Linked DNA regions of Homo sapiens: regions 2 and 3 are each linked to region 1. Evidence: fine-mapped expression QTL. A gene starts in region 1. Each other region holds a variant in brackets. All regions are shown on one strand. Distances are between the middles of the regions.

Evidence for each region.
Region 2: its variant is fine-mapped to the expression of PAN3-AS1 in whole blood (INTERVAL, PIP 0.99).
Region 3: its variant is fine-mapped to the expression of PAN3-AS1 in monocytes (Quach 2016, PIP 0.95).

What each region holds. Positions count from the first base shown.
Region 1 is chr13:28,134,348-28,145,242 of GRCh38, reverse strand. It overlaps PAN3-AS1 (PAN3 antisense RNA 1), which reads left to right and starts at 6,069. Exons shown (of 2, transcript NR_029383.1): 1 at 6,069-6,696; 2 at 6,838-8,400. PAN3 (poly(A) specific ribonuclease subunit PAN3) reads right to left here and starts at 6,698. Exons shown (of 19, transcript NM_175854.8): 1 at 6,156-6,698. The coding sequence starts at 6,585. RefSeq lists enhancers at 297-591, 5,657-5,951 and silencers at 6,034-6,433, 6,474-6,553, 6,744-6,853.
Region 2 is chr13:28,270,946-28,281,840 of GRCh38, reverse strand. PAN3 (poly(A) specific ribonuclease subunit PAN3) reads right to left here. Exons shown (of 19, transcript NM_175854.8): 14 at 9,770-9,860; 15 at 4,465-4,604; 16 at 1,300-1,429; 17 at 462-526. LOC124903140 (a long non-coding RNA gene) reads left to right here. Exons shown (of 2, transcript XR_007063735.1): 2 at 2,863-2,995. Among named protein-coding and RNA genes, the nearest start is that of PAN3-AS1, 140 kb to the right of the region's middle. The variant C/T (reference allele first, on the strand shown) is at 6,216.
Region 3 is chr13:28,230,012-28,240,906 of GRCh38, reverse strand. The region is part of intron 6 of PAN3 (poly(A) specific ribonuclease subunit PAN3); the gene reads right to left. It also overlaps the pseudogene RNU6-82P. Among named protein-coding and RNA genes, the nearest start is that of PAN3-AS1, 96 kb to the right of the region's middle. RefSeq lists an enhancer at 2,333-2,988. The variant A/GTA (reference allele first, on the strand shown) is at 5,211.

The sequences.
Region 1 (10,895 bases):
ATAAGACCGTGGAAATGTAAACAAGTAGACTACAGCAATCAATACTGGCCATGATACTGTACTACAGCTACAAAAGATGTTACTATCCTTTATAAAAGAAGAGTACATGAGATATCCGTATTGTATCTTACAATTTCGGGTGATTCTATAATTATCTCAAAATAAAAAGTTCATTTAAAATTGGGGGAAAAATTCCTCAAAATGGCATATAAAAGGATGATATTGGGCCAGGCGCGGTGGCTCACGCCTGTAGTCCCAGCGCTTTCGGAGGCTGAGGCAGGTGGATCACGAGGTCAGGAGTTCAAGACCAGCCTGGCCAAGATGGTGAAACCCCATCTCTACTAAAAATACGAGAATTAGCCAGTCGCGGTGGCAGGCTCCTGTAATCCCAGCTACTTGGGAGCTGAGGCAGGAGAACCGCTTGAACCTGGGCAGCAGAGGTTGCAGTGAGCCAAGATGGCGCCAGTGCACTCCATCCTGGGCTACAGAGTGAGGCTCTGAGGAAAAAAAAAAAAAAAAAAAAAGATGATGTTTTGGTTTGCTTTTGATAATCATTTATCTTCTTAAAGGGTCATTTCAAATGCACTTTCAGTCTATGATCATACCACTCTGAACACGCCCGATCTCATCAAATGCACTTTTACAGGAAAAAGTGCTTTATTTGTTAACTCAATCTCACCTGGAGTTACGTTATCCCTCGAGTTTTCCTCATAAAACTTATCGAAACCGGCCGGGCCCAGTGGCTCACGCCTGTAATCCCAGCACTTTGGGAGGCCGAGGCAGGTGGATCATGAGGTCAGGAGATTGAGACCATCCTGGCTAACACGGTGAAACCCCGTCTCTACTAAAAATACAAAAAAATTATCTGGGCGTGGTGGCGGGCGCCTGTAGTCCCAGCTACTCAGGAGGCTGAGGCAGGAATGGCGTGAACCCAGGAGGCGGAGCTCGCAGTGAGCCGAGACTGCGCCACTGCACTCCAGCCTGGGAGACAGAGCGAGACTCCATATCAAAAAAAAAAAAAAAAAAAAAAACAAAAAAACTTATCGAAACCAAGTATTACCTTATAGATATTTATAGCCCCACTAGAATGTAAACTCCATTAGGGCTGAATTATGTTTTTTTGTTGCTGTTGTTGTTCCTATCACCTTAATCAGAGCTTACCACCTTGGAAGCAGGATATTAAATGAGTGAAATGAACAGTATTATAAAGCCTTCATGATATACTAAGTATATTATTCCAATAAAAATGTTTAAACTTATGCCAGCTATCCTAACAGCAAATCGCCAGTACTCACTTCTCTGTCACTTAGTATAGGTTTGTGGGATGAAAAGGCTAGTCTTGGCTTAAACAAAAACAGCTTTGCCACACGCTACACATTACATATTCCAAAGCTAACATTTGAACTTCAAGTTATCCATGGCACTGCTCTCCTCCATTTGGACAATCACAATTCAATAATCTGTAGCTATTTTACTAGTCTTCAATGTATGCCCTCAAAAATTTGAAGAAGGAAATACAGAGGTTAACTATAGATTATTAATATTTAATAATAGCAATAACTAAGACTGAAACCTCAATATGTGCAGGCAATGCCATGCAATTTTCATAACATCTCCATTTTCCAGATGAGAAAAACTGAGGCTTAAAGGTTAAAAATTCGTTCAGTCACAAAGCTAGTCAAAGAGCCAGGATTCTATCTGAAACATGTCTTATTCACTAGTAACTACATTAGGAGAATTGAAAAGTGTATTTTGGTAAATTAAAACTACTGGGTTTCAAATAATGTACATAAAATACAAATATTGGCATATTTTACCTGTTAAAAATTGTACACTTTGAAGATTAAAGCCATTTTGAAAATCTAGCCAGTTGAAAATATTAGAATTACATCATTAAATGTCAAGAATCGATAATGCAGTTGAATACAAATCAAATCACTCTTAAGCCTTAGAAAAATCCCAAGACTAACAGAAATACGAAATGTTACGTAAGCTACATGGTACGGCATACCTGTAGTCCCAGCTACTCAGGAGGCTGAGGTGCTAGGATCACTTGAGCCCAGGAGTTGGAGTCCAACCTAGACAACACAGCAAGAACTCCCAACCCCCTCCTCAAAAAAAACAAAAACAAAAACAAAAACAAAAAATCAAATTGCAGTTTCCTTATAAGGTTGAAACATCATTGCAACTAAGTGTATTAAGAAAAAGCCTTTGTGCTTCAGTTTTCCAATGGCTGCAAAATAAAGATAAAGTTTTCTCATGCACCCACCTCCAAGGTTTTAACACTATCTGAAACACCAACAAAACAAAAACAATTCTGCAAATGTGAAGTGCTAAAGTTAGAGTCAAAACCTCAAATGCCTAGATATAAAAGTCATCCAGTTAGGGAATGAGTCAAAATGGAGAGAATTATGCTCTATCAACAGCTCTAATTCCAACACAGGTAAGAGACATCCTTAAAGGGAAACCAGAAATTTGTACTTCTATATTAAATCTTTTGTTTCTTTTGTTGTCAAATGATTCAATCAAAACCCACAAACATAGAAATTAAAAACACTAAATTATGGTATATATGGTGGCTCACAGGGTAGGCAGATCGCTTTGAGCCCAGAAGTTTGAGACCGGCCTGGGCAACATGGGGAAACCTCATCTCTACCAAAAATACAAAATAATTAGAGGTGCTTGGTAGCCAGTGCCTGTGGTCCCTGTCTCAAAAAAAAAAAAAAAAAAATTGCCATCTATTTTAACTGCCTCACACACATAATTAACCAATGAAGGCCAGATGTGGTAGCTCACACCTATAATCCCAGTACTTTGAGAAGTCAAGGCAGGAGATTGCTAGAGCCCAGGAGTTCGAAACCAGCCTGGACAACACAGCAAGACATCATCTCTTCAAAATAAAATAAACGGATCAATACTGTCTCAAAACACACTGAATGAGAATACAGTAAAAGGTAGAAAGCAGTCTAAAAAATGAACAATAAGTGTAAAAACTCAAAAAAGCCATACAATTACCAACACAACCTTTTTTCCTGATTCCTGAGCAACATTATTTCCCACTCCTTGGTATCTCTCAGTAATACCTAGGTTGTGATTCCTTATGAAGAAATCTCCATCCATAAGGAATTACTGAGAGATACCAAGAAGCCTATCACAGAAAAGAGGAGCCTTAGGCTTCAGCCAGACAAGCTAAAGCAAACACCACAGAATCTAAATACATAAATCAACTATTTAATCAGACAACTTTTACTAACAAGTGACAAAGTATTAATTTTAAAATACCTTTTCAGCATTAACTGCCTGTCCTCTCGAGTCCCTATATCTCAGTTATTTTCCTAAGATGTCCCACCTTTGAGCCACTGCTAATATTTTTTCCTCCACCTTAAGGGTACTTACCTTCCCCTCCCATCTTCATCTGCTTACATCCTGTCCTCTTTCAAGTCTCAGCCCTTCTACCTATTGTGTGTTAATTAGAAAATCCTCGGCCAGGTGCGGTGGCTCCCGCCAGTAATCCCTAGGAGGCCGAGGCAGGCGGATCACCTGAGATCAGGAGTTTGAGACCAGCCTGACCAACATGGAGAAACCCCGTGTCTACTAAAACTACAATATTAGCTGAGCGTGGTGGTGCCTGCCTGTAATCCCAGCTACTAGGGAGTCTGAGGCAGGAGAATCTCTTGAACCCGGGAGGCAGAGGTTGCGGTGAGCCGAGATCACTAGATTGCACTCCAGCCTCGTAAACAAGAGTGAAACTCCGTCTCAAAAAAAAAAAAAAAAAAAAAAGAAAAAAAGAAAAAGAAAATCCTAGAATGATCGTCAGAGCTGTCTGTCAGGAATAAGATTAATAGATAAATAAAACTTTAAAAGTTTTTTTTAAAAAGAGAATCCTAGAAAGATCACCTATGAAGTCTAACACCAGCATTTTAAAAAGTGCCTCTTTCTGGCCAGCACAGTGGCTCACACCTGTAATCCCAGCACTTTGGGAGGCCGAGGCGGGACGATCACCTGAGGTCAGGAGTTCGAGACCCACCTGGCCAACATGGCGAAACCCCGTCTCTACTAAAAATACAAAAATAAGCCGGTCGTGGTGGCGCATGCCTGTAAAACCCAGCTACTTGGGAGGCTGAGGCAGGAGAATTGCTTGAACCTGGGAGGTGGAGGTTGCTGTGAGCCGAGATCGCACCACTGCACTTCAGCCTGGACGACAAGCAAGCCTCCGTCTCAAAAAAAAAAAAAAAAAAAGTGTCTCTTTCTGTCAGTAAGAAAACTATTGTTCAGTGTCATTGGTTACTAATCAAACATTACTACTGAGTCACGACTCACACATCCAGCAAAACTTTAACCTGAAAATGCAAAGTTGATGCTCGAAAGTGATAAAATTCCACCCATAAGTAACCATTTGTTTTACAAAACATCTGAATTTACAAAATTAATTTTCTTAGCATTATCAGCCTTAGCAAATATATCTTCATTAAAGTCAAGCCCATCACAACAAATGAAACACTTCTATAAAAGAAAAAGAAAGAAGAGAGAAAGGAGAAAAGAACAGAACAGAACAACACTTGGCCCAGCATGGTGCCTCACTCCTGTAATCCCAGCACTTTGGGAGGCCCAGGCAGGAAGATCGCTTGAGCCCAGGAGTTCCAGGCCAGCTTGGGCAACATAGGAAGATCCCGTCTCGAAAGAAAAAGCAAGAAAGCAAAACCCCGGGGAAGATATTAAATAATCCTCATAGACCAATTAAATGCTAAAACTTCCTATCAGGTTCATTAACAGTGTTTAAGAAAAAGACAAAATGTTCTCATGTACAAATTGAACTGCCTATCAGATTATTTTAAGATCTAGTTCTCCAGAATTCCCAAGAAAGTAGGACTCCTATTTGGTTTAGAAACGCTCAATATACTAAGAAACAAAACAGGGACATCTGGCACCGGCTCTATTCGTAAAGGCAACATTCTCTAACAGATTACGCTCACATTCAATTGTAAACTCCACTAACAACTAACAAGCTTCAGGTCAATAGATAACAACACACTGAGAGGCTGAGGAGGACAGATCACTTGAGGCCAGCAGTTTGAGACCAGCCTGGCCAACACAACGAGACTACTATCTCAACTAAAACTACAAAAAATTATCTGGCCGTGGTGGCGCGCGCCTGTAGTCCCAGCTACTCCGTAGGCAGAGGCAACAGAATCGCTTGAACTCGGGAGGCGGAGGTTGCAGTGAGCTGAGATCGCGCAACTGCACTCCAGCCTGAGCGACAGGGCGAGACTCTCTCCAAAACAACAACAACAACAACAACAACAACACATGAAAAAGAAATATAAACAGCCTTAAGATGTCCCCACCCAAGTGCTCAGTCGCACATAAACGCAGGCTGCACATGACATGCATTCAAGACACAATGCTGAGTTTGCTTGATACAAAGCTATAGAAGACAGGATCCCAGCTGACACCAGCAAACTTATTCTAGCTTTCAGGGAAACTCAGATGAAATGCGTCTTTGTGAAATCCCTACTCTAAACTCTCGATTAAACCTGAGCACACTTTGAACGCGACAGTCCGCTCCCTCCTAATCCTTAGAAAGCATTTCCTGCCTGCAAAACCTTTCTCCCGCAAGCCTTCTACAAACTTTTTCCGTTCTTTCAACCTACTCCACGAAGCCTTAAGCCCGCCCCTCACCTCCCGCCCCCTACACACACACACACACACACACACACACACACACACAAACACACCCCTCCCCACTAGGGAACCTCAACACTCTGCAGACGCCACTCCACAAGGACACGCAAAACACATGTGCCTGCAAACCCAGCCCCTTTCCACACCCCCCGGAAACGACACCCCCTTTCTCACACTCCGCACGCCACAGCCCATCCCCCTTCCTCCCCGCCCCCCCTTCACATCACCCCAGTCCTCCCACCCACGTTCCCGGGAACCCAACCTCCCCGCGCTCTCCGACTTGCCGAAGGCAGTGGGGAGGGGAAGCAGGAAGAAGGAAGGAGGGCTCAGGCCCGGCCTAGGCCTCTCAGACCGCCTTGGGAGGTGAGGGGGGGAGCCCGCGGGCCGTGCTCAGCTCCCGTCGGCAGCAGGGCCTCATCCGGCCCAGGCCTGCCCTCCGCCGCCGCGGCCCGCCCCGCCCGAAAAACACTCACTTGCCAGCCGCGGTCCATCGAGTCCCCCGCTACTGCCTCCTCCGCCGGCTGCGGCTCCGGTCCCCGGGTCCCCCAGGTCCGGCTTCTTGGGCCCGGGGGGCGGCCCAGCTCCCCCGCCCGCGACGGCTCCCGGCGGAAAGCCGGCCACGGGTGCACCAGCCAGAGCCAGGGGGACGCTGTTGCTATGGAGGCCGAGGCCCGGGGCAGCCCCGGCGGCAGGGTCCTCATGCAGGAACTGACACTCCTCCCCGTAGAAGCAAGTCTTATCCTTAGCGTAGTAGCGGCAGTACTTCAGCTTCACTCCTACCGCCGCCCCGCCGGGGACACCCCCGACCCCCGGCGGGGCCACCACCGCCACCGCCGCCGCCAGCGAGGAGGAGGAAGGGGAGGCGGCGGCCGAGGGGGGCGGGAGGCCGCCGCCACTGTTCATGGCAACGCCGCAGCCTCGTCTTCCGCCGCCGCCCGAGGAGCCGCCGCCGCCACCACCATAGACGGGGGAGGAAAGGAAGACGCTGCCGGTGCCGGATAAAAGCCTGGGCGGGTGGGTCTGTCCCGCTGCGGGAGCCGGAGCCGCCCGGGGAGAAGGGGGAGGGGAGAGGGGAGGGAGGAGGGGGTAGAAGGAGGGAGGGTAGGGGGAGAGTTGGGATTCTCTCACTCACTCTCTCGTTCTCTTTTCTTAAAGGGGCCGCGCGGGACGACGGGGTGAGCGCGCGGGCCCAGACGGGGACTTCGAGGGCGCGGGCAGGGGAAGAGGGAGCGGCAGCGGCAAGCGGGTGGGGAAGGCGGAGGGGCCGGTTTATTTTTAAATTCTGCCTCCACTCGCTCTCTCGCGCTCTGGTTCCTCCGAGTTGTTTATTCCATTTTCCTCTTCCTGAGACGGCCGTCGCCGCTGCGCGTGCGCGCTGAGACGCGAGGGCTTATGGGTAGCGGGAGCGCTAGGGGAAGCCTGGCCGGCGTCGGGCCCCCGGGGGCATCCGCGAGCTATCGGCGGTTGGACCGGCGGCTCTCGGTGGGGTTCCGGACGCGGATCTGGCGCCGAATTCTCACGAGACCTGATACCTTCCTTATTTGTATATTCTCTTACTTAAAAAGCCAGATGTCTTTTTTTTTTTTTTCATTGAAAAGAGAAAATTGACAAGGTAAACGGTCGTTTGGAGGGGCCACCTGGGGACGCGGCCCGAGCCCTGGCTCTACCTGAAGAATATCTTCTATTTGCCACACTTCCTCTCCCCGTTTCCTTTCTTCGCCCCTCTCCTCTTTCCCCTTCCCCTCGAAGGTAATGAGAACTACTGGACCGATTACGCTAACCTCTTGGCCCTTTGTCAAAAAATGGAGCCAAAAAGGTTGATTTAGACAGACCCCCTGCTCAGTGCAGCACCTGTTATTCTCTGTATTTATATTACCAAGGGCCTTCGGTAAATTATGAAAAATAGGATGCCACCTGGGACAACACTGCTTAGACAGCACTGGAAGACCTTTATAAATATACTAGGTTGCTTTTCTCCAATCAGCCTAGCCTTGATTTGAAATTCATTTTTATTTTTTTTGAGACGGTGAAATTCATTTTTAAAAGATAGTTTTAACCTCAGCGATCTCTGATGTTTGCGCTAATACCCTTTTAAAGGCTTTCAGAAATTTTAAAGAATTGCTATGAAAGGAAAAGTAACATTCTAGTTTTTCTCTGTAAAAGAGGTTCACAAACGGCAGATCGCTGTTATGAAAAGGAGGGGTGGAAGTATTTAAGGAATTGTGGCAAACAAAGTCACAGAAGAATGGATATAAGCAAAAGTAGCACACTGAAAAAAATGGGGAAAAGTGGAGTCTAGATCACAAACTGGTAAGCTTGGTGATGTTCTCTAGCCAAATTCGAAGGTAATAACATTGTATTATGGCTTTCTGTTTAAAAGCAGTTTCGCTTATTTGATTATTCAACAAATCTTTATTAACACGCATTACGTGTACCAGAAACTGTGGTACACTTAACTGTGGAGCTGGGGAAGCAAAAGTGAACATGCCGCCTTAAGTGAGTTCAGATGGCTTATCTTCCGGTTGGGGAGGCATCAAGTACACAGGTCCGTTGTAAACCAGTGTCTTAAGTGCTAACCTTATCACATTTGCTATTAGAGGATATTAAACATGTCAGACTTCTTGGAGAAAGTTGATATTTTCATGTTCCAAGTTTGGGAACATCATTGAATTCAGACAGATCTGGATTGAAACAGATTAAAGTGCCTACACTTTAATAGCTGTGTTCCTCTCAGTTAATTGCTTCATTTCTCTGTGCCTTGTCTGTACACCTGGATTAAGAATAGTACCTACTTCATAAAGTATAACTAATAATGTATATAAACTGTCCCATGCCTAATAAGAATTCGGTAGGTTGTAACTATTATTAATAGTATTGGCCAGGCGCAGTGGCTCACGCCTGTAATCCCAGCACTTTGGGAGGCCAAGGCGGGTGGATCACCTGAGATCAGGAGTTCGAGACCAGTCTGGCCAACCTGGTAAAACACCGTCTCTACAAAAATACAAAAAAATTACTGGGCGTGGTGGCGAGCGCCTGTGATCCCAGCTACTGGGGAGGCTGAGACATAAGAATCACTTGAACCTGGGAAGCAGAGGTTGCAGTGAGCCGAGATCTCGTCATTGCACGCCAGCCTGGGCGACAGAGCGAGACTCCATCTCGAAAAAAAAGTAGTATTGCTGCTAGTGGTAGTCAGTGTATAGTCAAAGAGCATTCTAGGCAAACAGCTTTTATTGTTAGAATACAGTGATAGTGGAAAATGGAGCAGAGTCCACAAAAGTCCTTGTAGGGCCATGTTAAAGAATTGAACTTTTGGCCAGGCGCAGTGGCTCACGCCTGTAATCCCAGCACTTTGGGAGGCTGAGGCGAGCAGATCACGAGGTCAGGAGTTCAAGACCAGCCTGGCCAACATGGTGAAACCCCCGTCTCTGCTAAAAATACAAAAATTAGCTGGGTGTGGTAGCAGGCACCTGTAATCTCACCTACTCGGGAGGCTGAGACAGAAGAATTGCTTGAACCCGGGAGGCAGAGGTTGCAGTGAGATCGCACCACTGCACTCTAGCCTGGGCGACAGAGCAAGGCTCCATCTCAAAAAAAAAAAAAAGAATTGAACTTTTTCTTGAGGACAATTGGAAGTTATTACAGGGTTTTTAAAAGTCAACATGGCAGGGCACAGTGGCTCACACCTCTAACCTCACTGCTTTGGAAGGAAGCCAAGGCAAGAGGATCACTTGAGGCCGGGAGTTCAAGACCCTCTTGGGAAAACTAGCAAGACCCTGTCTATACAAAACAATTTAAAAATTAGCCAGGTGTAGAGGCACTTGCCTATAGTCCTAGCTACTGGGGAGGCTGAGGCAGAGGATCATTTGGGCTCAGGAGTTCCAGGATGCAGTGAGCTTTGAAGGCGCCATTTTATGCCAACCTGCACAGCAGTGAGACCCTCTCGGTCAATAAATAAAAAATAAACTTATTTGCCACACATTTCATATCTCCACACTTTTTTAGGAGACAACTACTTATTCCTATAGTAGGGTTGTCTTTTTAAGCAGGGTTCATTGTTGAGTATTCCTTTACTAAAAATAAATATGTAGTCAACTCTAAGTTATTTTCATGTTAATGAAGATTACATCCAAAACTGCAAATAATCCATAAATTATTCATAAAATGTATACTTGACCTCCAACAGCATTTCCCCAGCAACAGAGACTACATTGCTAAAGGGTAATGTTAATTTCTATTAAATGCTAATAATTGAGGCCAAGCGCATTGGCTCACACCTGTAATCCTAGCACTTTGGGAGGCGGAAGTGGGTGGATCACTTGAGGTAAGGAGTTTGAGACCAGCCTGACCAACGTGGTGAAACCCCGTCTCTACCAAAAATACAGAAAATTAGCTAGGCATGGTGGCAGGCACCTGTAATCCCAGCTTCTCGGGAGGCTGAGGCAGGAGAATTGCTTGAACCTGGGAGGCGGAGGTTACAGTGAGCCGAGATTGCGCCATTGCATTCCAGCCTGGGCAACAGAGCGAGACTTCATCTCAAAATTAATAATAATAAAGATTGAGAGGAAAACGTCACATTTTCTGAATGGTTAATTATTATATTAGTGATAGCAGCCTGAGTCTTAAAAATTCTCCCTTAAGGACAAGCATGTGGCTCACACTTATAATCCTAACACTTTAGGAGGTCAAGGCAGGAGAATCACTTGGCTCAGAAGTTCTGAGACCAGCCTAGGCAACATAGGGAAACACTGTCTCTACAAAAAAATTTAGCTGGGCATGGTGGCATTCTGTGGTCACAGCTACTTGGGAGGCTTAGGTGGGAGGATTGCTTGGGCCAGGAGGTCGAGGCTGCAGTGACAGCCTAGGTGACAGCAACCCTGGTGTCACCTGGTGAAAAAAAGGTGACCCTGTCTCAAAAAAAAATAAAAATTATCCCTTAAGATAGAGTGGAAACTGCATGTGGATAAATGAGAGTTGACTGTTTTTGAGTCCTAGAAATGAAATTTGCTGCATATGTATAAATACATTTCTTACATATTTGTAAAGTATGTTCCTTATGCACTAAGCTCTATAATTTTATACAAAGTTACTAGCAACTGCTTAATTTAATCTTGTTGACAAATTTTGGGTGCACTAGAAGCAAAAACCTTCCTATTTGTGGCAGTGATAAATAACTGATACATGACAGATTTTTTGGCCAGGCGCAGTGACCCACG
Region 2 (10,895 bases), 140 kb before region 1:
CGAGATTGTGCCACTGCACTCCAGCCTGGCGACAGAGGGAGACTCCGTCTCAAGAAAAAAAAAAAAAAAAAAAAGTGTGCTTTAATAGAAGGTAAGAGGCATGCAAAAATTAGAGATTTCTCAAGTCTCTAAACTGACCAGGGTAAACTTACATGAAACTTCTTCCTCAAAAAGAAGATAGGGTAGAGGTAGTATTAGTCATAAAATGTGCCCTCATGTGCAAACCACAAGAGATTTCTAACACACCATATTTTCTGTGTGTATACATGTGTGTAAAATTCGTAAGGACAGCCACACCTAGGCTGTTGTTAAAAATAGCACCTTAACAGCTAACACAATCTTAAGGTCACTTCACATGAGAATTTTTCTCTTTTTCCAAATAAAGCCAGGCATACTTATTCTTATTATGCAAAATAGTGCTCTCGATTAAAAATATATTGTAAAATACTGTAAATCCTTACTCCGGCCTCTCATTGATTGTTCCCAATTTTGCTAGGAGCCTAAACAGTCTTCCATTTTGAACCTCCTATAAAACATTTTAAAAAGAGAAAAATGTTAATGTTCCAGATAACTGAACATAAAAGCCAAAATTTACAAAAACTGGTAACCTGTACCAATATTACCTTTAAACAATAAATCCTAACATCCCCACCTTTTGGTTATACTTTTAAACAAACACAATATGTCCATTTCATTTCATAATGGTACTCAAGAAGATTATGGAGCTGTCCATAGGAATTGGAAAAGTAACTCACATGAAAAACCAAGATTTTTGTCACATGACTGTAGCAAAGCCATGAATGAAAAGAACAGTGTTGTCCAGAGGACATAAGAAATTAAAATACCAAACATTCAGTGCCGACAAAAATATCTGAAATCTTAGCAAATAAGGCATTATATTTAGTACAATGATTATTTTGTGTCTATTTATATACACAGATGCAAGTTGTGTGTACATTCTTTTAATTACACTCTTTACTGGCCAGGTGCAATGGCTCACGCCTGTAATCCCAGCACTTTGGGAGGCTGAGGCGGGCGGATCACTTGAGCTCAGGAGCTCAAGACCAGCCTGGCCAACATGGTGAAACCCCGTCTCTACTAACAATACAAAAATAGCGGGGTGTGGTGGCGTACACCTGTAATCCCAGCTACTTGGGAGGCTGAGGCAGGAGACTCGCTTGAACCCAGGAGGCAGAGGTTACAGTAAGCCGAGATAGCACCACTGCACTCCAGCCTGGGTGACAAAGCAAGACTCTGTCTCAAAAAAAAAAAAAAAAAAAAAAAATTTACACTCTTTACCTTTGCAAGGTCTTCCTCTATGACATCATTTCTCATTTGAGCAGCATCCAATTGAGTATAAAATCGAGCACCAATCATGGGCATGATGTCATTTACACTTCGCATCCTGTTTTGGTCAGTCAACAAATACCTACCCAAGATAAAAGAGGAATTACTTGGATGTCCAACATGCAATTTAAAAAACAAGATAACCCAAACATAGCTGTTTTGGCTGCCGTCATCTTAGCACACAAAATTTTGAAAACATTTTAATTCATGCAAGTCAAGTTCATTCTTAAATATTACATTTCATTCCTCTGGAAAACTGTAACAGCCAATGGAGAAACAGTAAACATGTCTCTTCTCTACATTTTCACTACTATGGAAATGAGAAAGAAAAGTGAAGTAGGACTGCACTTACCCATTTCCATTCTCAAACCCTTCTTTACAATAGTGCTAGATGAAAAGATTGTTACAGGCCAGGTGCAGTGGTTCACACTTGTAATCCCAGCACTTTGGGAGGCCGAGGCAGGTGGATCACTTTAAGACCAGCCTGGCCAACACGGTGAAACCCCGTCTCTACTAAAAATACAAAATTAGCTGGGCATGGTGGCGGGCACCTGTAGTCCCAGCTACTCAGGAGGCTGAGGCAGGAGAATAGCTTGAACCCAGGAGACAGAGGCTGCAGTGAGCTGAGATGGCACCACTGCACTCCAGCCTGGGCAACAAAGTGAAACTCCATCTCAAAAAAAAGGAAACAAACAAAAAACAAAAATAAATTAATAGAAAGAATTTTTTTTTTTGGTGACAGAGTCTCGTTCTATTGCCAGGCTGGAGTGCAGTGGCGTGATCTCGGCTCACTGCAACCTCTGCCTCCTGGGTTCAAGCAATTCTCCTGCCTTAGCCTCGTGAATAACTGGGACTACAGGCGTGCGCCACCAAGCCCAGATAATTTTTTTCTATTTTTAATAGAGACAGGGTTTCACCATGTTGGCCAGGATGGTCTCAATCTCTTGACCTTGTGATCCACCTGCCTTGGCCTCCCAAAGCACTGGGATTACAGGTGTGAGCCACTGCACCCGGCCAAAAAAGAAAAGGTTTTTAGAAACTTTTTTGAGAGGACTAAAAGGGGGTAGGTGTGGGGTGGGGAGCTTTTCCTGTTGTTTTGCAAAGATTAATTTTCAGAACTAAAACTGGGTTTTCAATTTTGCTAAACTGAATGAGCCTTTTTAAGAAGCTGTCCTCTGCTCTAAAACTTAATTTACAAGGTATCATGACATATTCATTTCTGAGAAATGCAGTAACACGCAGCAGAAGGAACCAGTTAAATTTCTTCTATCATTAGAACAGTGGCAGAAAATACTACACATTTCAAGGGCTACCTGTTAGAACACAAAGATTCTCAATCATCTACTGCCGCTTATTCTATACGTAAAGCCATTCTCTGCCCTTTCTCATGAAAGCAGCCTCCTACTCACTCCTTCACTCTTCTGCTTGTAATTCTCTTATTTTCTTCATAGGTCTTATCACTACCTGAAAATATCTCACTGGTTTTTATGTTTATTTACTCTTTCTTCCCATTAGGGTGTAAGCTCCAGAAGATGGGAATTTTGTTCACCTCATTCAAAGTATCCTGCATTTGGCATATAGTAGTCATCATTTTTGTGGATAAATGAATAGCTATACCCATGTGAATAAACTATATCTTAGCAATTCATCCGTAAGTATGGACATATGTGTACCCTGCTAATCATATTTAATGTTATTACAGGCTATGTGACTTTGGCAAGTTATTTTATCTCTGTGGCTCAGTTTTGTAACTCTAAAATGGGACTAATAATGGTATCTAATTTATAGAGTTATTGGGAGAATTAAAAAAATTAATTCACATCAAGCAGTTTGAAAGGGCCCGATACATGGTTTAATTACTCCATAAACTTTAGTTTGTGTTTATTATTAAAGTATGGCTTTTTTGTTTATTCATTTTTTTAATAAAGAAAATTTCAAACATTTATAATAGAATAGTAATATAATGAATCCCCATGTATCATCACCCAGTTTCAATAATTATTAACATATGGCTGATTATTTTTGTCCTCTATCCCCACTTTTTTAAAAAGGAAAATTTAGAGATTATAACCTGAAATTATTTGAGGCATCCTAGGTATTTGCAAACTAAGGCTAGGAATCACTGTTGTGATCATATATAAAACAAGTATTTTTATTCAGAAGATAAATCATCTTATTTGAATTTGATTATGAATAGGATCCAGACAACCACTGGCTTCTAGTGCTGTCACAAGTAGGACATTTATGCCAGTGTAACAAAGAACAGGTGGGCAATCCCACCCTCCATCCCCCAATTCATACCCCAGGGCTGGTCCAAAAAGAAACTGGATCATCCAGGGCTACACAGAAAGATCAGAATGGGCAGCTGTAAGCTAAAAGAGACTGTTGATTAGCACCTCTTCTCTAATATAGCTCATAACTGTAATAAAGGTCGTGGTTGCCCACCCTCTGGGATCTCCCAATAGTAGCTATATCTTACGGAGAAGTCCTTCTGTTGTGACAGTAGTCCACACAATGGGTTTCTCTTAAGCCAAATTCATCTCAAATCGATACTCAAGGATTCTCTGGAGCGTTAAGATACTGGAGTGTAAGCATGGGGGTCTCCACACAAATGCTTTCCAGAATGGGTATTTTGGCCAGAGTACATGACTGGATTGCACCTGAGGCTTACTCATGATGGCTTTCACACTCTCTAGAGCAGCACTATCCAACAGAACTCCAAGATGAGGGAAATATTCTATGTCTGTGCTGTCCAATTATATTAGCCAGTAATTACATGTGGCTGCTGAGCTCTTGAAATGTGACTAGTGTAATTGAAGAAGTAAGCTTTAAATTTCAATTAATATCAATGTAAAAGGTCACATGTAGCTAGTGGATACCAACAAACTTCTACTGGGTGCCCTTTAACCAAATGTTTAAAACATCAATAACTAATTTAAACACACTGGTTTATCAATTTATCTAAGAAATATTTACTTTGCAATAAAAATAAAGACATAAAGTTTCTGTTTTGCTTGATTTTAAATAGTGGGAACCAAAACAATCACTTAAAACAAAAAAAGCTCTGTCTTATCGCAAATAATCATTCTGTACAATTTATCATATATTAAAACTTACAAAATCAGATTCTTCAGGTCAGAGGAATAGTTGATTGTCACCAGTTCCATGGCTTTCTGTAAATTCTCTCGCTGAATTCCTGCCAAAGAGTTGCAAGCCAAAGCCAACACAACTTTTCCTAATGATATCAGATCTGCTTGCTGACATGAAAGAATAAATATAACTTTTAATTTTCATTTCACAGGTACTCATTTAATACACTGACACTACTGCCTAAATGGAAAAAGCATCATTATAAATAAGCTGCAGGCAGGGTCCTCAAATACTGGTGATTCTCAGAATAACCTGGAGCTTATTAAAAAGACGACTTCGAGCCTCTCTACCAGAGATTCTCATTGGGTGGGTCCAGAAAATGGCTCAACATTTTTAAAGCACCCAGGTAATTCTGATGAAGGTAGTTCTAGGTCCACGCCTTAAGAGACTTTAAGCAATTCCCATGCCAACTACAAATTGCCACTTTTAAAAAGTTTTTCTAATTTTTTCTTATTTAAATAGAGGTAATATTCTTCTCTATTACAACAAATTTAAGGTTACTATACATTTGCTTTGCTATGACCACTATAACTTAACATACATACTTTGCTCATTTTCTGTAACTCCCAGAATATAGTGGGAATGTGAAGGATTATCTGAAGAAAAGTTATCCTATTACAAACATTAGCATTAACCAGATTTTAGAGCAAATTCTCTAGAACATCAAAAATGCTGCAAACCTCAATGAATGACATCCCATCTATCTTTGTTTCCAAATAGACTATTTTTCCTCACACTCTAACAGATCTTTGAGCTCTGGAACCACCACCTGCTTTCCTAAAACCTCTCCCACTCAAGATTTACCATTCTGAGGCTTTCCTTCTAAAAGGATTTTCAAAAGACAGCTGGCTGAATTAAGTCCTTTATCACCTATTATAACTCCAGGAAACAGTATGGTCATCCCAAGTGGCCCTGATTGGTAGGAAGCTATTAACAACCACATGCCTTCAAGAATGGAGTACTTCAGAGTTAACATGAAACCACCTGAAGCAATTTCTACAACAGACATTTGCAGATCTTTAAAATCTGAGAACTCATCTAAATTATTAGACACACGTTCATTTACTGAACATTCGTTTATTATAAGGAATTTTCAAGCATAGCTGTATATTACCATCACTTGAGAAGCTTAAAAACAAAACCAAAATCAGCAGTAGCCATCCCCTCGTCCCAATTTTGGTATAATTAGTCTGGGATAAAAATCTAGGTATTGGTATTTTTCTAAGCTTCCACAAATGATGGTAATATGCAGCCAGGATTGAGAACCACTGGTTTGTTGGAATATTTGTAACTTTAAGGCAATCATTAGTGAAATTCTAGCATTATATGGTTATACTTAACAACAGCCTACCCAAATAATGAGTAAAAAGACGTTAAACTCCATTACTAAAATAACATTTAAAAGTTCATACTAAAAAATTTATCCAAAACTAGCATTTGTGAATCTGACACTGAACATGAGATAAGGAGACAGACTGATTAGGTAGACAAACTACTTTGAATCTATTAGAAAAGATTCAAAGATTCATCCCAGAAAACTTTTAAAACTTCACTGGTGATAGAGTCAGGAGCCCAGAATGGCAGGAGGGAAGCTGGCATGGGAAGGAGAACTATTACTGTTGCCATCATTTCTGTTTGCTGGAGGACACTGTGATGAACTCCAAAAAGAATTCCTCTCAATCACACTTTAGATCAAGTAAAACATTCCAAGTTATATT[C/T]ATGAAATTACAGAAATCTCAGCCAAAAGAAATCAGTGCATATAAATGCCAACTATAAATTTCTATGGGCGATTCAATCCAAAGTATCCAGCAAAGCATACCAAAGATTGTTGTTATTTATCACGTGTTTGAGCAGCAGGTACCAACACACAGTCTTCCAACTCTTCAAGCAGCAGAATTTTCAGTTTGGTTCCACCCTGAACTGATGCTGTATTAAGCCTCCCTCCCAGAATATTCCATTATTCTCTATTATGAGACAGAAAACCAAAATGGTCCAAGAGAGCTGAAGAACCAGATGGGTTTAAAAAATAACATCTGATTTTTAGTACATCCCATCACCTCTCTAAAGCGGACTCAAGGTAAGAACATCCACTTTTTGAAATAAAGTACATGTATGACACAGTCCAGATTAAATTAGAGTTGTTTTTTTAAACAAAAGAAGTTAATAAAATCTTAAGAGAGTTTCACACCGTAAAACCCAGTAACTCTCCTTTCCTTATTTCTCAGCTAAATAATTTTCCATTTGTTATTTTGCTTCTTACCTCCATCTGGTTTCCCCCCATTTGTTGAATTCAGGAGATTTGCCCCCCAACTGATTTTCAGTTTCTTCCTGATTCTTGACTTCTTGATTTCTTTTTCTGATTCTATCTATGGCTCTACTTATGTCCATTTTACTCAAAGTCAGTCTCTATTCACGTGTCTGAAACAAACTATGAAAAATAGACTACAAGAAACAATGCACTCCTCATGTATCCTCTTCTCTGTAAAATCACACTCCCCCTTTGGGACTATCTTTAATTCTTTCCTATACCTTACTATAATAAGCAATATAAAAAATCAGCTACACATATATACCCAAAAAAAGAAAGCCTGATATATATCCTTTAATGCTGAAAAAAATAAACAGGTGATAATTAATTGAAGGTTGCCTGATTTTATGAATGAAGGCATATCCTGACTTACAAATATTAATAAGGTGCCCTAAATGCTTAAAGTTGGTTGTCTGAACTCAGGGATTTTTTTCTTATGAAAAGTTTTGTTTTTCAAGGTAACTACACGACTCATAACATACTTGAAAAGGAACCCTACTGAGAAAAGAATGAGGAGCGTGTGCAGTTTTTTTTTTTTTTAATGCAGACACGGGTTTCTAGATACTTACATTAGAAGATGATGGTACTGGCTCTAAAAATGTGTAATTTTCCTTCAAAAATTTAATATTATCTGCTTGGATGTATATCCAAGTGTATATATTCACTAATATTTTAACAGTCAATAATCTGTCACTTTTGGAAGCATAAAGGTCATAAAGAAAAATTAATCGGAGCCAACTACCTAGGCACTAAGTATAAGAGAGAAGATAAGAATGAAAGTAGCTAAGAAACAATGTCTCCAGATAAGAAAGAGGGGGCAAATGCCCTCAGGCAGAAGAACAGAATGATGCTGCTGGGGGAAAAACAGAACTAATCATATTCCTCCCTGTGTTGCCCACTAGATGTTGCTATCAACCAGAACAGCTTGGCTGCTGCTGAGGTTAGGTGGGCACAAGCAGAGGGAAAGAAGGGTGTGAAACGTCTGCAAACAACTGAATGCAATGAGTGCCTGCAAGTCTTTGGGACTGTATTCTCTGTGGTTTACGAGCAAAACAGATTTATGCATGAACTGAAATACTAAACACTGATTAGACTCTACTTCTCATTTTATCCTTTTTGTTCTCTTTTTGTTCTGAAATTCTATCAGTGAACTAAAATCTTCTTCCAAAACTTTAAACAAAATAAGTTGAAAAGAGAAGAATAAGGTGTTTCTCCATGTAATTAAGAAATTCTGCCTTAGAGCAAACCTTTGTAAGTTAATAAATGTTCAAAAAACCCAAAAACTTCTTATACACAAAGAACTAAAATTGTCTTAAAATCATAGCTGCCTATCCTAATGTGAAGCATTCCAATACAAACTGAATGACCTATTTACTTTAGTTTTGTTACTTGCAGAGTAATCAAGGCAAAAACAACTATTCTCTTTTTTTTTTTTGAGATGGAGTCTAGCTCTGTTACCCAGGCAGGAGTGCAGTGGTGCGATCTCAGCTCACTGCAACCTCCGCCTCCCAGGTTCAAGCGATTCTCCTGCCTTAGCCTCCTGAGTAGCTGGACTACAGGTGTGTGCCACCACACCTGGCTAATCTTTGTATTTTTAGGAGAGGTGGGGTTTCACCATGTTGGCCAGGCTGGTCTCCAGCTCCTGAGCTCAAGTGATCTGCCCACCTCAGCCTCTCAAAGTGCTGGGATTACAGGTGTGAGCCACCACACCTGGCCTAAAGCAACTGTTCTTAATGCTTGAAGATACGTTCTTATTCTTCGATACTTTATCATTTAAATCAGGAAATAAGAAACAGCAAAATAGCTAAGAAGCATCACGAGGCCTAAATCAACACTAATAAAATGAAGTCAGACAATAATCAAATACTAATAAAGTATAAGAAGTGAGTGGTATGTTCTGACTAAATAAAAAAATTACTTAGAAAATGGCAATCCAATAACAAACCTATGAAAACATTTCTAAAATTTCATGACTGGTAGTCAGACAAGTGTTCTAAAAGTAAAAATAATAGGTGTAATTAAAGGAGTGAAAAAGAAGGGTGTCATTTAATATAATCCATTCATCTGATTAGTCTTGTTTTAATCTATCTATGCTTAGGACACGTTTCCTAAATCACATAAATACATTTTCATTTTGAACAGTTAAGAGTCTCTGACGTTATCAGGAGGCCGGGCACAGTGGCTCATGCCTGTAATCCCAGCACTTTGGGAGGCCGAGGCAGGCGGATCACCTGAGGTCAGGAGTTCAAGACCAGCCTGACCAACATGGAGAAACCCTGTCTTTACTAAAAATACAAAATCAGCCAGGCATGGTGGTGCATGCCTGTAATCCCAGCTACTCGGGAGGCTGAGGCAGGAGAATCGCTTGAACCTGGGAGGCAGAGGTTGTGGTGAGTTGAGATCGCGCCATTGCACTCCAGTCTGGGCAACAAGAGTGAAACTCTGCCTCAAAAAAAAAAAAAAGAGTCTCTGACATTGTCATGAATTCTCTTTATTCCAACCCACAAGGGCTCTACACTAAGTACATCATAATGGTTAAGAAATACAGCCTGGGCAACATCGTGAGCCTCTATCTCTACAAAAAATAAAAATAAAAAAAATTTTAGCCAGACACAGTAGTGCACATCTGTAGTCCCAGCTACATGGGAGGCTGAGGCGAGACGATTGCTTGGGCCCAGTTCAAAAGCTGCAGTGAGCTGACAGCACCACTGCACTCTAGCCCAGGTGACAGAGCAAGACAGAAGCAAAAGAATAGAAAGGAAAAGAGAGAGAAAGAAATAGAGAGGGGAAAGGAAAGGAAGAAAAGAGAGGGAGGGGAGGGGGAGATACATGTTCAAAGTCTGCATAGACACCACCCCAAAATAAATTAAAATCTAGGCTTAAAACACTGAAATACTTTAAAATGAACAAAATTTGTCTTTAATAAAGGAAAACAAGTAAATATCCATGTTAATTCTTACTCACCTGGTACTGGGCCATTAATGCCAATGGATTATTATTTTGACTGTTATCAAATGTTAAAACATCAAAAACTCCAACACAATTTACTCGCAACCTTTAAGGACCAGATAATTTAAAGAAAATAATTAAAATAAGTTTTTAAAAAATTGCATACTCATGGAAAAGTAACATTTCCCAAAATATTAGGAAGGATCTCAGAATTGAGTTTAACTTCCATCCTACCCCACACCACCTCCACCAACCACCATTTTAGAAATGGTAAAATTAAGGCTCAGAGATATCAAGTGATATACCTACAGCTGTAAAAGTCAGAAACTGAGAAAGCCAGAACTATAACTCACATCTCTTGACTAACAGGTCAGTGTCCTTTTCACCATTCCAAGCTGTTTATTAGTCATTCATAAAAGAGAACTAGTTAGCTTTCTAACACTTGCAAAAGATGTACCAGACACTGTTCTAAGCATTTTACATGACTCATTCAAATCCCTCAATAACTTTATGAGGGGTACCTCATAAATAAGCAGAATGGAGTTAGTAGTACACTTGTCTAATAAGGTTGTCAAAACACAATTTGAAGAAGTAACTTGTTCAACGGCATATCGACAGTAAACTATCAAAGCCAGGATATGAACTTAAATAACTTGGTACCAGATCTTCAGCTCTTTATGTTATGCAGCCCAAGACAATCACAAAATTACAGCAACTCAAAACTCAGGTGAAGACAAGACTGATAACTGTACCAGTTGTTCTCAAAGCATGTGACTCAACAGCAGCAATGGCAACACCTAGAAACTTGTTAAATATGCAAATACTTAGGCCCCAATGCAGACTTATGAATGAAAATCTCTGGGGGTAGGGCCCAGCAAGCTGTGTTTTGTAAGTCCTCCAGGTGATTCTGATTCATGCTAGAATTTGTGAACCATGGTGCTACATAGAAAAGTTGTATTGATATTATTTTTATATTCCCCTAACCCTAACCACATATACTTCCCTAACCTTTCCCAAGATTTTTGGTTAATAACCAGGCATTTTATTCAGAGTTCAACTTTTTTTTTTTCTTTAAAAAGCTTACAAATGAATTCAAAGTTACAGAAGTTCTTCTGGATGGAATATATGAAAAGGCAGAATT
Region 3 (10,895 bases), 96 kb before region 1:
TTTTAAACATGGATCTCATCCCAGAATAGAGTGTACAATATAAAACCAACCACTTCACCATCCAAAAATCAACAGAATCAGAAAGTAGACACTAAAATAATACTAGCCTTTACTTCTTTCCTCAAAATAATTTCATTTTTTCAATCAAATTAACCTTTGCAGAGAAAATCAAATCTGGCAAAAAATGTTCTTAATCAAAAGTATCAAGCTTAACAAGGTAATAAGAATCATGCAGCTATGGAGCGAAAGTTGAATTTTCTGCAAACTCATTTGTCTAAAGCCCAATTTTCTAAACTCTGCCATGATGGATGACTATTTGTACTTCTAGCCTAATCAATCAAAGATATTTAAAGAATCTACTCAAATACTGGCTAGGTAATACTATCATTACTCCTATATATTTTCAACCATCCCAACTTTCAAATGATTAAAATAAAATTTATACATTTATAATCTTTTAATTCTTAAATAACAAAATTATATGCGTTATCACACAGACACAGCTTTGGGATTTTCTATGTCATCCCACAGCATGTTTTATCTTCAAAAAGACAATCCACTGTATCCCTGTATAATTATGGCCCAGAAAATTAGGGTATGAAGCTTTTTATTCTGTAGCTTAAATCCCTCATGTTTCAGATTAAAAATCCATATAATTAAACATTATAATTAATCTCATTTCCTCAAAGATTGATTTTTAAAAGCCTGTAAAGTTTTAGGGTAAAAATTCATTATATCTTATTAATAAAAGTTATCTAAAAAGCATGTTAGCCATAAGCCAAAATATACTCACTAAACTAGCAAAATATTTACTACTCAAATTAAGTTCCATTAAATCTTAAAAATTCTAAGCCACAAATGCATACTACCTTTGTAAAGATGAAATAATCCAAGTGTCAAAAAGTTTACTTGAGAGAAATGTTTATAACCTCATATATTTTAAAAAAAGAAACTTGGATTCATAAGTAGACTGCAAAGCTTCTATGCTGACCTCTCAGTGCATACAAATTCTTGCTGGCAAAAAAAGCAGTAAAATTTATCCACTTTAAAGAAGTTTGACAATAAAATAAAAACGAAGTCAGTAAGAATACTGATGTTAATTGCCAGAACTGATTCCTTCACAAACCCTGTTTTCACAACAGCAACCCCTTATGATTAGGGGAATTAAAAGTTGCTGAACTCAACAATCCCTTCAGTTAAACAAACAGACCCCTCATAGAGCTGTCCAACGCTGCCCAAACTATCCATCCTTTAGTCGAATCAGTCAGTTTCATGAATTGTAGGATTTATCTTCAAGTCCAGTGCTGACTCAGAGGGTAGCTTGTTCCCTAGAGAAAACAACCAACAAAAATCAGAACAGCTACTGCTCATAAGCTCTTTCAACACCCAAGTGGAAAGGACAAACTTACTGGGTCCAAAAAAATAGTTCAACTTCCTTTCAACTACAGAAGTAGCCAATGAACCAAAGGCATCTATATGTCATGGGCAGTTCTTGATTAAAGCTTTCACTCAGTTACAGTGAGATTGTTAAATAGCTAACAAAGTTTTCAAGAGAAGCTATAGCACAAACCATATGGTTTCTCACTGGGAAAAAATATGAAGGGAACATAAATGGAAAGTATTATAAGGGCCAAAGCTATTTTCATTTTGTTGTATTTTTTCTTTGACAAGTTGGTTACTTTCCGTGTGTGTGTGTGTGTGTGTGCGTGTGTGCATGCGTGTGTGTGTGTGTGTGTGTGTGTGTTGGCGGGGGTGGGGGGTGGGGGGGGTGGGATTAAAAGTCTCCACCAGAAAAGCAGTTTGGATATCTAGAGTAACTCTGCTTAACGCCATACATAATGAACTAGTGAAATGTTACATAATTCCTTAAATTCAAGGTTCTGATTCACTTGTTAAATAAAATATTCTGAATCAAAAGATTGAAAAGAGTAACATGTTCTGTTTCAAGACCTCAAATAGTGGCTTGCCTTCCTTATTATGTCTAAACCCAAAAAAAAATCAACATGCATAGCCTTTGAGCTTCAAGATATGCCATAACAAAACAAGGGAACATTCCCATTTTATGAGTTAGTGGTTTTATCTATAATACACTATTATGAAAAAAAAGGGGAAAAAATAAGAAAAGGAACTAAAGAGCTCAAGCTAATTTCATAACACTGAAACATCATTTTTCCTTTTGTATGAATTAGACTGAAAGTTTTTTTGTTTACAAACGTTACTCAAGCCTGCATCCAGACAGAATCATGAAGGTGGCCAATACAACTTTTCATTAAAAAAAGTATCAATGCTATTAATTAATCAAATGAAAATCTATCCTAATTAAAATATATCTTTCTCATTTCCAAGTTTTAACATGAACAAATCTTGATTCTCAGCCATAAACTCAGTGCCTAAGAGCTCAGACTTGTGAAATACAATATAGTAGTGACCATGCATTGTCTTGAAAATTGTACTCATTTGAATATAGGCATCTGACATTTTGGTTAAGTGTCTTTTTTGTTTGGTTCCTTGGTTTTTAATGCCTTATTGATTCCTCACTTTCCCAACCTTTCAAAAGGGGTTTCAGGGGGATTAAGCACCAATGAGCTAAACACCCATTGTATAATGCCACCTGATAGACATTACCCTTTGCAGAATGACAAAATAATCGCTTATATCACTTTTCTGTACTCTTTGGTTCAAATGAGGAATCTCAGCTAAGAAAAGTGCTGCAGCCTTCCAGCCTCCTTAACCTATGTACTGGTAAATTCCCTCCTACTGAGAAACAGGCCACCTATGGCAGTGGTTTTAAAACAGTTTTAACTACACCTTAGGCTTCCAGCAGTGCCTCGGGGTTTTGTAAATGCCTGATTTGAATTTCTTTTTATCTGTTTTTCCACTGTTTATTAAATAAATAAAAACACACAAATGCAGGTCAAATTAACATGCATTCATGTTTTAACATACCAACACCAATATACTTAATTTTGTGTTGGGTTAGGATATTTTCATGCAGACCTCAAGGTAAAGCCTCTCTCTTGTCACCATTGTGCATACATACAGATGTTTTTTATTAGGAAGGTAGTGACTCTGCAATAATCTTTGTTTAAATGCACATGTACTCAGAGAAACTTGAACACATGAGTACACAACTTACCCATGGAATTCATGATTTTCATGTTACTATATGATTAAAAATATAAAAAAGGAGACTTGAGGGATACAAAGTTAATTATTATTCTTCACCCACCAATTTCAAGCTATTATATTCAATAAAATACTACATAGCCTTGTTATTCTCACTGAATAACTTTATGAGTTAATGTAATAAACCCGAACCGGTAAATTCCAGCTTTATCTGCTTTATGTAACTTTAGGTTTGGGGGTTCACACAGGACTTCACAAGAGTACTGCTGCTATTTTTTAAAAATGTATGAAAACTAATGTTCTAAGCTCTAATTAAGTTTTGGTGCTTCTGGTTCACAGGTTCTCTAGGGGCAGAAATGATAATTAAGTCTTAAGGTTTGGTTGCCTGTTCATTTCTGAGTTCCAGTGATATAGTTAGGTTCCAACCCATCTTTTCCAGTCTTATTACCTACTAGTCTCTTCTCCCCACATTCTGACAACCCTCAAGAAACAATGTGCCAAACTCTGTGAAGCTGATGGCAAATAAAACTGTTAAAAAGATTTTAAAAGAGGAGCATCAGGTACTTAACATGTAAAAAAAAAAAATCTGTCTACCTCTAGGCCATTTTCCATTAATTTTTCCATGTTCCAGCCCAATCTAATGTTTTCACTGGCCTAACAATGCTAATTTTAAAACAAAATTCTACTCTTTGGATATAAATATTTGAAAAGATAAAAAGAAACTCCACATAACAAAAGCAGGGACTAAGAGCCTAAGACAGAGCTCTGTAAAACAAAAGAATCCATATGATTTCAATATTCTAAATAGTCATGCAAAATCATCACTTTTAGAGAGCTGATATTTAACCAATATGCACTGATACCAAGGTACTGTTTGCTTTTAAGAAAAACAAACAAAACAAAACAAAACGCTTTGGGAAGCCAAGGCAGGAGGATCGCTTGAGTCCAGGAGTTCAAGACCAGGCTGGGCAACAAAGGGAGACCCCATCTCTACAAAAATAAAAAGAACCCTGCTCTAAGCCTATGGCTTGGAACCATGCCTGAGATTTTCTTCACAGATGTTCATTCAGTCTTCACCTAATTCAGACTGAATTAATTTTTAAACATTCACTGAGAACATTGTCTTTATGCTAAACTGGTTAAAACAAATAGAAAAAATAACAAACTTCACTGACTCTCAACTGCCCATTTTTAAAACAGATAAAAAAATCTTATCCTTCCTTTAAAAACCATCTCAGTTCTTCTTCCATGAAAGTTTTTTCCTTTACATCCTCATTCAAATCAGATAAAATTTACCTTCCTTCAAATTTTCTGGCATTTTGAACATTTTTTACTCTAGATGTAAAGGGGTATATGTTAGAATCTCCTGTGAATTTTTTAAAAATATAGATAAAGGCTGATGCTCCAAATCTGTGTTTTTGATTTAATAGGTCCTAGATGGGGACTAGAGAATTTATATTTTCAAAGCACCGTATGTGATTCTGATCTGTACCTATATATGAAAGCTCACTGGAACCAGCATGAGATCAAACGCTGAGCAAGATTCTAAAAATTGAAGATATCGAGAAATAAAACCTAGGTCTAAACTCACACAGTTCACATTCTACCATAAAGCTCATTAAAATGCTTAAAAATGTTCAATCTTAATACTTAACTGTAGCTCTTCATATGTGAGCACAATAAAGGATAAAATACCACAGGAGCATTTAACTTTAGTGGAGGAAATAAATACGTATAAAACTAACATGAAGGCCATGCACGGGGTTCACGTATGTAATCCCAATACTCTGGGAGGTGGAAGCAGGAGGATCATTTGAGGCCAGAAGTTTGACCAGCCTGGAGCAACTTTCACCAGCCTGTAGCAACCACAACTCCATAAAAAAAAAAAAAAAAATTTAAAAATCAGCTGGGCATGGTGGTGAGTGCCTCTAGTCCTAGCTACTCCACAGGGTGAGACAGGAGCCCAGGAGTTTGAGGGTGCAGTGAGCTACAATCGAGCCACTGCTCTCCAGCCTGGGCTACAGCCTATCTCTAAAATAAATACATATATATATATATGTGTGTGTGTGTGTGTGTGTGTGTGT[A/GTA]TGTGTGTGTGTGTATATTAGAGAAAGACAAAAATACTAAAAAATTATGAGATACTCAACACACTATAAAAGCAAAGAAATGGGAGATACTATAATGACCAGAGAAGTAGCTATGACTTCCAAGAAAATGACATTTGACCTAATCAATAAAAAGCAGGCAAAGATCTCAATAAATAGGAGAGCCTTCCAGGCAACATAAGGCCCAAGCAAAGGCACAGAGATGATGGGGAAAAGGCTGACCATGTTCAAATACATATTCTTAAAGAACAGGAGATGTACTTCATAAAAGAGTGAGGTCCTATATGAAGTAGAGTCAAAGGGACTAGGTCCATTTAATCAGAAAAGAAAGATGGCAGTATTTTAATAGAACCTTCAATTATTTAAAGGAAGTAAACAGGGGAAGAGGATGGAAAATAATGGTGGGAAACTTCCTTTACATTGTCAAAGGCCTTTTTTTATAAGTGACACTTTAGCAGGGACCTAAGAAGAAGAGAAGGAACCAGCCATGGAAGGAATGGGAGGAATGACACATGCAGAGAACATGAATCAAAAGGAGCTTTACATTATTTGGGGAATGTCAGTAAAAGGCCAGAACGGAGTACACAAGGGAAAGAATGACAGGTGAGATTATAGGTATATAAAACAGATTATGCAGGCCATGGTAAGGGGCTTGGAAATTATTCTAATGACAATTTAGTCATGATTTGGTCTATATTTAAGATTACTTTTGTTATTATACAAAAAAGAAATGCAAGGGTAGACCAATTAGCCTAAATAGTGCATGGAAGCGGCTATGATGGCAAGAGTAAAAAAAGGAAAATAGAAGACAGTTCATAGATATAATATGAAAGCCAAGTAGATATGGAAAATGAAGATCACAAAAATAAACCTTAGGTTTCCTGTTCAAGAATCTTTCTTAAAATGAAGGTTTTGAAATTAAAAACAAAAAAGAAAGAAAAATAAAGAATACTCAAGAGGAAGATGATCAGTTTACTCAACTTCATAAAAGCCTAGAGAAGAAAAAGCCTTAACTCAGCAAACAGAATGTAGGATAAGAGTTAATAAATTCTAAAATGAATTGAGGTATGAAGACAAGTTAGGACATACTTTCCTAAGGCAATTAAGAGATTTTCACATAGCTTAGGTAGTAGCTACAGAGAAAACTGAAGATGGGAAAATGAATTAATCAGTTTAAAACCCTTGTTACCTATAATTTTTACAGCATATAGAAATTATACATTCACATGCACACCAATAGTATCTTCATAATCATACAAAACTCCAAAACATGAAAAATTTTAATTTTTCATAATAAACAATATATTAAAGTTTTCTTCTAATTATTAACATATGGAGGCCAGTAATCTCAGCACTTTGGGGGCCAAGGTGGGAGGACTGCCTGATCCCAGGAATTCAAGGCCGCAATGAATTATGATCACTCCACTGCATTCCAACCTGGAAAAGAGAGCAAGACCCTGCCTCTTAAAATAACAACAACAAAACCCACATGGAACTGAAAGTAAGAGGAAGGGGGAAGCCTGTTCTCCCTGACTGTACCAGACCACACTAGTGCTTCTTAACTGCCTCAACTCTCTTAAGGCACTGGTTCTTAAATAGGATTGACATCACAATACCTGAAAGGCTTTCTAAAAAAAGACATTTATAGAACTGAAAGAAAAGAAAAATGGAGGTCTGGATGAGAAACTGGATTGGTAGGTTTAGGGGTCCTGGCCAGCAATGTATATTTTAAAAGCACCTTGGGAAATGCTGATACACATCTTTGGTTAATTTTTAAAAGATTAACATGAAATCAATGTTAATGCAATAAAACAGAATTTCTGATGAAATAAATGGAACTATATTCTTTTTACAGAAATACAAAGGGAAAACATCAGGGAGATTAGATTTTAGAAAGACTATAAACCTGATATTTGCCAGTGAAATTATAAAAGCCTTTTTAATTTCTACACTGATTTTATGACATCCTGAGGTACCTCTAAAGCTTCCTCAAGGAATAAATGTTCAAACACAAAATTAATTTGCAACATAAAAAAATGCACACAGCTACACAATATACTTTTCCTCCAAACAAAATAAGCCACAATTCTAATAAGAATGTCTTAATTTCCAGGCCGGTCATGGTGGCTCATGCCTGTAATCCCAACACTTTGGGAGGCCGAGGTGGGCAGATCACTTGGGGTCAGGAGTCTGAGACCAGCCTGGCCAACATGGTGAAACCCCATCTCTACTAAAAATACAAAAGTTAGCCGGGTGTGGTGGTACACGCCTGTAATCCCGGCTACTCAGGAGGCTGAGGCAGGAGAATCGCTTGAGCCCAGGAGGCCAAGGTTGCAGTGAGCCGAGATCATGCCACTGCACTCCAGCCTGGGCAATAGAGTGAGACTCCGCCTGAAAAAAAAAAAAAAAAGTGTCATAATTTCCAAATATTAGGAAAAAATGCACCTAAGCAAATCACAAAAATCCCTTCTCCTCTATATGAGGTTTTTAACATAATTTTTTTCCACTTTTTAAAGAATTACTAAAAGCAACCATCTGAAGTTACTACCCATGATTTTCCTAACTATACCAATACATTTGCCTTTCAGAATTACTGATTTAAAATTTTCGTATTCTAGTTTAACAATCTGCATGCTGGATATCTATTAAGCTACTCAAGAAAAAAAAAGATAATAGTATTCTAATCTGTAAATTCAGATGTTTTATAATGAATCTAACCTAAAAACTTGTTCTGTAAAATTGATGAGGAATATGTACACTCACAAATCATTATTTTCATAGAGGCCTGATTTCCCCATAGATCACAGTTATGTTATTTTCTGTCAACAGGTTACAATTTTAGCCTAACATAATAAAAGGGAGTCTTTAAAAAAAAGTTTTTGGATAAGGGTTGCTCACCCTCGAACTCAAATTAACAGATCCCTTATCTAAACACTTAATGTGATTCCTAATACATGTATATGTAATTCTGTGCATATCATTTGTGTTTATGCCAATGGAAATTAAATTCTCAATACAGTATTTTATAAATTTTTTATTTTTTAATCTTTATAAATTTTTTAAAAATATATTATAATGCAGAACACTTCATGAATTTGGATGTCATCTTTGCACAGGGACCATGCTAGTTTTCTCTGTACTGTTCTAATTTTAGCGTATGTGCTGCCAAAGTGAGCATACATTTCAAAGATTTTTTTTTTTTACGTTGAAGCTACTAGAGCTTCATCTTCTATATGCAAATATAATATATCCCATTTAAAGTGGGTCAAATCAATAGTTACCATTAAAACAACAGTTTTTTAGGATGTGATAGAACAATTTTCTACTCTTGAAGTATCCAACATCTAGATTCGGGGTAAACTGAACCTTGGATTCAAAGACTATGCTCTTTATGATACCTAATTCTACTCTTATTTTGCTGTCCTTCAATGTCTATCTTAACAACAGTCACTTCTTGGAAATTTCTAACCCCTTATCCTCATTTTTACAGCCTCCGGGTTGCGGGGGATTAGGAATTCTGTGAATGAGACTACAAAGATATTACAAATAAAGTATTCTTTTTCATTTTTTTGAGAAGTAAACAAGAACTGGTTTTCACTTTTGGGTAAATATAAAGGAAAAGTGCTAAATGTTTACCTTATGACTGCGTAACAGTGACATTTCAATTATAACACCATGAACTGATTAAAAGTACAAAATCTCTTTATATTATGCAATAAAACGACAAATTTCAAAGTACTCTAAAAAGATTTATTTATTTATTTATTTTCATTTTCAGAGACAGGGTCTCACTGTGCTGCCCAGGCTGGAGATCAATTGTGTGATCATAGCTCACTCCAGCCTTGAACTCCTGAGCTCAATCAATCCTCCCGCCTCAAGCTCCCAAGTAGCTGGGACTACAGGTGTGTGCCACCATACCTGCCTATGGTTGTTGTTTATTTGTTTTGAGACCAGGTCATGCTGTGTTGCCTAGACTTATTTTTACATGTAAATCACCTTTAATAGAGGCCATGTGGATCTAACCCAAATAATTGCAACTTAATTTCCATCTCTGATTTTCCCCTTAATAACTACAGAATTTCATCAACTAATTTATATAATCCTACTTCATTTTGGCTGAATATCTATCTATGATAGATACTTAAGACTATCTGGTATTAGAAATACTGTAAGCATTAACAAAATAATTAAGTACCTTAAAGCTTTCTCATAAAATGTATTTAATCTTATTGACCAAACTCAGGCACATAATGTCAATTTATATGATGAATTTAACCTGAGCTTTATCAAACACACAGTCCTCAATATTTGATAGAGATCACAGCCTGCACAACTACTTTGTTTTCCTGGTCTACACATAGTAATCTTCCCTTTGACATAACTTCAGTCTTGCCTGTATTAATGGTGTCATTTCTAGATGAACTGTCATTAATTAATTTAACAAATATCATTAGACTATTGATTGTATAAAGTGCAGTGCCTAAATCCCAAAAACATGAATAATTCAACATATTTTAAAAAACCAGCATCAGGGTTTTAACTATACTAGTAGGAATCTTACCCACTGGCCTATAATAGTAGGTTACTTACTTCGGTCTCTATGTTTGAAGAAACAAAACAGTAACCTACCTGCTTGTCCCCAAACTTGGCCAAATGATCTAAAATGATGGGATCTCCCTAGACTCTACAATGGTGGCAATCTTTTAAATAATAACACTTACTTAAACGAAGCATCAAAACAGAGGGAAGAAAGGTGTTAGCTACTAAATATAACTGTTTTGGTTGAAAAGAACCATTTTTTTCTTCTTGAGTGGTAGTGACTGTTTGAGTAAATGGTGTCCTTCATTCATAGTGATAAATTGTGTTGTGTTGTTTACAAACAAGAAACTTAAAGACAAGAGTGTCTTATGAAAATTAATTACAAAAATTCACACAAAAAAGTAAGATTTAGTTAACAATGTAATTTTAATTTTGGATTTCTTTCCAATGAAAAAAGCTACCACCAAAGTACAAACAAAAATTAAAGTTGATCTCCAGAAAACTGTGGTTGAATCAATAAGTGCCTCTTATTTATCTAACATTAACAACAATTTAGTTGTTTTCTCTTATTTTCTCTTTCTTTTTTTGCCAGGACATGTTCTCATGTGAACAATTTAGTTGATTTTTTTGTAACAATTTAAAAACATACATATTAAAGTGTAACATGTAAATAAAAGATATCTGATTACTAGTTCCAGAACCATAGGGTTGTTTTTTTTTTCCATCCATGGAACTCTGCTTGAGGGTTTTATATTTTAAACAGCCACAGTACTTATGCTACTCATTTCCTAAGTATTTTGAAAAACTAAAAGTTATAGTAACTAATTTATATTTTGTCTCACTAACATTACCAAGGTGGAAGGAATCCGTTTCCCAGATTTATTCATGACTAAGCATCGGCAACTCCTATATTCATGAATTCAACAATAACTCTAGTTATTCAGAACACAGACATTAACCAGAAATGAAGTGATACTAGCCTCAGCCAAAGGATAATATAAAGCTCATGTACCTTATTCACAGGAAACAATTCAAGTCCTTGACTCAAAGCCTTTTTCTCATTTAAAAAAAAAGAAAAAAAAAAAGAGGTACTAAAAGATATCTTTGTGTTCTTAGCTCTCAGCAGAT